Linked DNA regions of Homo sapiens. The protein of the gene in region 1 purifies or fractionates together with the protein of each later gene. This does not show direct contact. Each region holds a gene or a part of one and is shown in the gene's direction. Other genes may lie near its edges. The genes, in order: CUX1 and GRHL1.

Region 1 (3,828 bases):
TCAGGTGATCCACCCACCTCAGCCTCCCAAAGTGCCGGGATTACATGTAACTTATTATTAAACATTACCTGGTTAACCTTCTCTACCTGCCTCTCCTATCCCATTCTTTCCTTCCTTTCCCTCTTCTTCCCTCTTCCAAAAAGAAAAAGAAATTGGGCCTTTTAATTTTGAGCCAGAGAAACTGCTGCGAAGGCCTTTGCCCAGCCTCACCCTGGGAGTTAGTCGTCGTCTTCATTGTCGTCTTCGTTGTCTTCTTCTTTCTTCCTCTCTTCTTCTTTCTTCCTCCTCCTCTTCTTCTTTCTTCCTCTTCCTCTTCTTCTTCCTCTTGCTCCTCCTCCTCCTCCTCTTCTCCCCCAACCCCCACGTTCACTTCATCCCCTGGGAGCTGAGGCTTCCAGGCTCCAGCCTGCAACACATACCGTTCTACTCCCTCTCATCCACAGCCTGCCGGACCACAGGCTGCCCCTACCCCCACTGAAGGGCTGCCACACCAGCCCCGCTTGTCACTGCATTTCTGCTAACTCTTTCTGTTGCGTCCGCACATGACAGGCCCCACCACCATGTGCACATCTGGAAGCCCCACTCAGGTGGCTTCTTTGCCCAAATGCGCTCCTAGTTTTCCACTTCCTGGTGAACCAGCTGTGCTCTTGAGCTCTTGCCCGCGTCCCCTTCTCAGCATCGTCCCATTTCCACTTCCTCACCCCCACGCAACAGGGGATGCTGACCTCAGATCCTCATGCACTGCAGCACAAGACACCCTGTCCCTTCAGGGCCCTTCTCCAATGCTTGTTCATCATGACACTGAGACGTGGTCTCCAATCCATCAAGATCCCTCCTGCTGGGGTCCTCACAAGTTCTGTCTTAATGGACCACTTGGAGTCTTGCCTATTACCTGTAATGGCCTGTAAATTTCCTGGAGTACGGACCAGGAGTGGTTCTGATTCCCCACGGCAACAAGCGGATAGCAGGCTGCTGGTAAAGATCTGTAGAATAGATAAAGAGCCACGTGGTCTTTTATTACATAATCCTAAAGAAAATAGGAAACGAAGGACAGGATTCCATCTTAAGAAACCCCTTTCAGCTGGGCGCAGTGGCTCACATCTGTAATCCCAGCACTTTGGGAGGCCGACAGATCACCTGAGGTCAGGAAACCAGCTTGGCCAAAACCGTCTCTACTAAAAATAAATTATCCAGGTGTGGTGGCTCACACTAGGGGGACAGAGGCCGAAATTGTGGCTGCAGGAACATGGCGAAGGTCCGGTTGACTCTGCACCTGCGAGTCGTAAATCTCACGGTCCAGCCAGCCTGCTCTGGGTCTCTCTCTTCCATCCTTGGTATTTCAAAGAAACACTTGCAGCTCCTTCAAAGCCACATAGCCTCACTTCCCCTCTTCTCCCTGGTAAACTCAGCAAAAAAGGGACATCCACAGCAAAAGGAACTCAAGAAACAGTAATAATCCTGGGGACCTGGACTCACTGAGACAGCCCAGAGACCGTAGTGATCAGGGTGCGGCCCTTTTCAGTGCCATTGAGAACAAGGGAGGGAGAAGTCACCTTCTCTTGCCACATCTTTGTCATTGCACTCCTTCCCCAACCTGGGGCTGCAGAGAAGGTCTGCCCACCTGGCTTCTGAGTCATCCAAGTCTAGGAGGTTGCTCTTTGCCTATGTCCCCTGGTCCCCAGGTAGGTGCCAGTTAGGAGTGAGGTGTGGGCAGTGGCCGCCCTGGTGGGTTCCCCTCTCTCTGGCTTCTCCTTACAACTTTTTCCTTCCCTTTAAGCTTTACAAATACATTCCACTTGCAACAATGTTATGTCTGTATTAAACTTTAAAATTATACTCTGAACAGACCTGGTGTGATTCCATATGGAATGATTTACATGCTAGGCAAGAAACTTTTGCCAGCCAACTGCTAGTTGAATAGTTATTCTAGAGACATTATCAGATTCTATTACTGCCAGGGAAGTTGTTAAAGTTGACAGTTCTTCGGTTCCTGGAGAGCAGGAAATTGTAATGTTAATGCTTATTAATGTGGCTGTTGTCAAAGGTATAAGTAGAAAATAATCACTCTGGTGGCTCATGCCTGTAATACCAACACTTTGGGAGGCTGAGGCGGGTGGATCACTTGAGGTCAGGAGTTCGAGACTAGCCTGGCCAACGTGGTGAAACCCCGTCTCTACTAGAAATACAAAAATTAGCTGGGCATGATGGCACATGCCTGTAATCCCAGCTACTCGGGAGGCTGAGGTAGGAGAATCGCTTGAACCTGGGCAGAGGTTGCAGTGAGCCAATATCGCGCCACTGCACTCTAGCCTGGGTGACAGAACGAGACTCTGTCTCAAAAAATAAATAAAATAACCCCTCTGTTGTGCTCTTGCAGCATTCTGAAGTCCATGGAGTTTGCACCGTCCGAGGGCGCTGGGACACAGGTACGTGTCTCACCTCAATGGTCAGCACTAGCATCAGCCCCGCTGCTGGTTACCACTGGTCCCTCCGGCATATCCCATGATCCACTGTTTCTACGAGACCTCTCACTTACAGCCGATGAGTCATACTTCAAGAACATTTAACCAAGTTGAAGCAAATTATCTTTTTTTTTTTGTCTCCTTTTTTTCCATGTGTCCAAGGCATGAACCAGGCATAGATCAAAAGCCAAGCTGGGGATGAACAAGGGATTGCTTCATCCCTGACTGATAGGAGATGGGCACTACCAAAAAGCAAATTATCTTTAACAAAAAGAGGCAAAAAGAGAAAAGCTAGTGTTTTCCAAACTGGTAACTGAAGTGAAATTGTGATTTCACTTCAGCAGGTACTAAGAACATAAATAAAAAACAATTTCAGATTGTGTTTAAGAAGGCCAGGCTCAGTAGCTCATGCCTGTAATCCCAGCACTTTGGGAGGCCAAGACAGGAGGATCGCTTTGAGGCCAGGAATTTGAGACCAGCCTGGGCAATATAGCAAGACCATGTTGCTATTAAAAAAAAAAAAAATAGCCAAGTACTGTGACATATACCCGTGGTCCCAGCTACTTGGGAGGCTGAGGCAGGAAGATCGCTTGAGCCCAGTAGTTCAAGGCTATAGTGAGCTATGATCGCACCACTGCACTCCAGCCTGGACAACAGATTGAGACTGACTATTTTTTTTTTAATTGCATTAAAGAGCAGCCAAAAATGGATTGGTTTAGGAACTTTAGTTACATGCTGCCTCAGTAGAGAAGGTACAAGGGAAGGATGACTGTGGCCCAGGGTCATCTGGTGGCCAATTAAAATTGACATCCCAGACCAAGCATGGTGGCTCACTCCTGTAATCCCAGCACTTTGGGAGGCTGAGGTAGGTGGATCACTTGAGGTCAGGCATTTGAGACCAGCCTGGCCAATATGGTGAAACCCTATCTCTGCCAAAAATATAAAAAATTAGCTGAGCGTGGTGGCGCACGTCTGTAATCCCAGCTACTTGGGAGGCTGAGGAAGGAGAATCACTTGAACCCAGGAGCCAGAGGGTACAGTGAGCCAAGATCATGCCACTGCACTCCAGCCTGGGCGACAGAGTGAGACTCCATCTCAAAAAATTAAAAAATCAAATCAAATAAAATTGACATCCTAAGTGGAATCTGACTCCTGATGCCCAGAAGACAGCCAACATCTTTGTGGCTGGCAAAAAAAAAAAAAAAAGAAAAGTTCCCTTTACAGTAACGTTCGGACAGACGTTTGTGGCTTGGCAGCCAGTCTTATGGCCAAATGAGGCACGGGCTCAGGTCGCTTGAGTTTGAGAACAGATGAGAGAATAATTAATTTTTTTAGGAGCTGTGGAAGTCTAAGAAGGAAAATGACT
Region 2 (3,370 bases), on another chromosome or scaffold:
CTTGATGGAAGCTGTAAGTAGGATCAACTCTGTAATCCCCTGTACAAAATGAAAGGACAAGTACATAGGATTTCATTGAAACACTTTATCAGATGATCCAAATCCTTTGTCAGACCTTCTGGAATCCCTGACACCTTTCTCGAGTCGTCGTGCGTCCCACATTTTATCCTCACCCAGGGGTCTTAACTCACACAGTCACTCAGTCACACCTGTTCCACTGAAGTGAATGCATCTGTGATGGCCTATGAAATGTTTAATTTTTATATACGTGGTTAAAGGGAGATTGCCATTTAGCAAGCCACTTAGAAGCTAACAAAAGTGATTTTTAATCAAGTACAATCTTAAAAACTTCATACATAAAAACAGTGGCTCCTCAGTCTACCTTTAAAACTCCCAATCCTAGGAAATTACTGAACTTGCATCAAGACCTCACTACAGCCTATTGCAGAGAAAGTAGACGTGTAACCAGTGATGGCCGTAAGTCCATCTTACGAGGATCTCAGCACGAGGCTGGAATAAACTGACCCCATGCTCCCTGTGGGGATATCAGTAAGAGAGGAAACATGGAAGGCTGCTGTGTTAATTTCCCGTTCCAGCTGTGCACTGGAAAAACGCATGTCATCAGCACTGAGTGCAGATATTTACCAGCCTGTCTCCTAGAGACCGTAGAGATCTTTAAGCTCAAAGTGTGTCCATAATTGGGCTAAAAGCATCTCCCCCAGCTCCCTCTGATGACTGTAGTGTGTTGAATTCATTTAACACATCTTGATAAAGGGCTTGCTTCATGCCAGGCACTGTGGCGGGCACTGGAGTTATGCGCGTCAGTGACACAGTGCTGAATGGAGTTTATTTTGTAGTTAGGAAGACACAGACACCAAAATAAGCAAAGAAGTTGAGGTCATTTTTCAGGTACTGATGAGTGCCATGAAGATTAATAAAGCAGGGAGATGGGGCGTGGGTTTGGGGAGCTGCTGTGCGGTCTCTCAGCCAGGCGCCCCAAGTCCACGGGTGTCACTCAGTGCATCCCTGCCTGCCCACAGCACAGGCAGCGCCGTTCCCACTGTCACTTCCTGCCTCCTAGGATGTCCCCTGGGTTTCTCTTTTCTTGCCTTTTGATGACCCTTCATCATGTCTTAAGAATCATGCAAACTGGCCAGGTGCGGTGGCTCACACCTGTAATCCCAGCACTTTGGGAGGCAGAGGCAGGAGGATCACCTGAGGTCAGGAGTTCGAGACCAGCCTGGCCAACATGGAGAAACCCTGTCTCTACTAAAAATACAAAAAATTAGCCAGGCTTGGTGGCAGGCGCCTGTAATCCCAGCTACTCGGGAGGCTGAGGCAGGAGAATCACTTGAACCAGGGAGGTGGAGGTTGTAGTGAGCTGAGATCCCGCCACTGTACTCCAGCCTGGCATAGCAAGACTCCGTCTCAAAAAAAAAAAAACAACAAAAAACAAACAAACAAAAAACATGCAAATTCTGATTACAGGGAAAGAGGAGAGTAAAGAGGATGCAGAATTACTGGGCCAGCATAACTGTTCATGGCTCACGAGGAACTCATGACAGGTCTTACATGTCAGAACACAAAGTATTATCATCCACTCGTACAGAAAAGAAAAAGGGTTTGTGTGGTGAGAACTTGGAGCTGGGGTCTGGTCTGAAACACGTGTTTGGAAGGTTGGCAGGATCTGCACGTTTGCCACCTGAGGCTCTGTTTCTCAGTGCCACCTTGAGCTTTGCTCTGTGGCTTGAGGTGAAGCTGGTGATGCCAGCCTGAGGATGGTCTGGATGACAAGTGTAACGTTTGATCTAGAGTGAATCAGCTGTTTGTCCTTGGAGCAATTCACCCATTCTCTTTAAAAATATTAAAAATAGCCTCTATGTCCCGAAAGGAAGACAGCCACAGCTCCCCAGAAGCTCATTACAGTGAGGGGCAGCCGGGCTGAGGAGAGCTGGAGGCCCCCAGCACACGAGCTGGGGCTTTTCCATGTCTTTGTGTCTGCGTTTTTGAAAAACAAAAAGTCGAGTGACTATGCATGTGTGTGTGTGTGTGTGTGTGTGTATATATATACATATATATACGTATATATATACATATATATACGTATATATACATATATATACGTATATATATACATATATATACGTATATATACATATGTATATATGTGTGTACATGTATATATATACATATGTACATATATATGTACACATATATATATACATATATATGTACACATATACATATATATGTACACATATACATATACATATATATGTACACATATATATACATATATATGTACACACATATATATACATATATATGTACACACATATATACGTATATATGTACACACATATATACGTATATATATGTACACACATATATACGTATATATATGTACACACATATATATACGTATATATATGTACACATATATATATACGTATATATATGTACACATATATATACGTATATATATGTACACATATATATACATATATATATATTTGTTGTTTGGTTTCTAAAGCCTTGATACAGGGTTTTGTAATTATTTTTCTTTCCTCTTTTAGATCTCAGACAAATACGATGTTCCCCATGACAAGATTGGGAAAATATTCAAGAAGTGTAAAAAGGGGTAAGCAGCCACTGCGTCCTGTGTACCTCGGAAAGTGCTGATGCCCCCCGCAGTGCTAGTGTGACGCACCCCCCAGTGCTGTTGACACCCCCCAGCACCATGTAACACACCGTGCATGCTAGTGACACCCTCCTGTGCCAGTGACACACACCCTGTGCCAGTGTGACACGTGTGCATCGTGCCCAGTCCAGAAGCAGCCAAAGAAACCTGGGTGCTGGAATGTGGCTTTTCTAAATTATATACGAAATTACTTAGATAAAATTGATCTGCCTTGAGGAGATCTTTGTGTATTGTTTCTCCAAGTCACCTTCTTTGCCCTCCACATGCCTGGCAGCAGTGCCATGGCTCCACACTCCAGGGTGTGTGGCCAGCGCCACTGAGGATGGCCAGGGCAGCACCTCCGTGTGTCGAGCCCGTTGGAGCCGGGCACTGGGTTGGGCACGTCCCACGGTGCTGCGCTTGGTCTTCACGTCTTCTTTCTGAGCTGGTCTCAGGGCTTGTTTATATTTATAGACAGGCGGCTGAGGCTCAGAGTTCAAGAGGCTTTTCGGGGCCATGGTTGGTATTCCCTGCCTCTGCAGCCCATGCCCTGCTCTACCCTCCTGCTCAGGATCCTATTTCCAAGTTATGTCACGTTGCTGCTTTGTCTAGAAATTAGTATTTTTAGTTCTTTTTTGTCTGTCTATGATGTTTGGCATGGATAAGCAGTGGCTAGCATAAGAATTTTTT

Evidence for each region.
Region 2: the proteins of CUX1 (region 1) and GRHL1 purify together in Homo sapiens (co-immunoprecipitation; one large-scale study listed by IntAct). This does not show direct contact.

What each region holds. Positions count from the first base shown.
Region 1 is NC_000007.14:102,191,465-102,195,292, forward strand, and holds part of CUX1 (Homeobox protein cut-like 1), read left to right. Parts: intron 1-2,377; coding exon 2,378-2,426; intron 2,427-2,611; exon of another isoform or gene 2,612-2,741; intron 2,742-3,828. UniProt on the Homo sapiens protein: May be involved in intra-Golgi retrograde transport.
Region 2 is NC_000002.12:9,996,389-9,999,758, forward strand, and holds part of GRHL1 (grainyhead-like protein 1 homolog), read left to right. Parts: coding exon 1-13; exon of another isoform or gene 14-39; intron 40-2,576; coding exon 2,577-2,641; intron 2,642-3,370. UniProt on the Homo sapiens protein: Transcription factor involved in epithelial development. Binds directly to the consensus DNA sequence 5'-AACCGGTT-3'.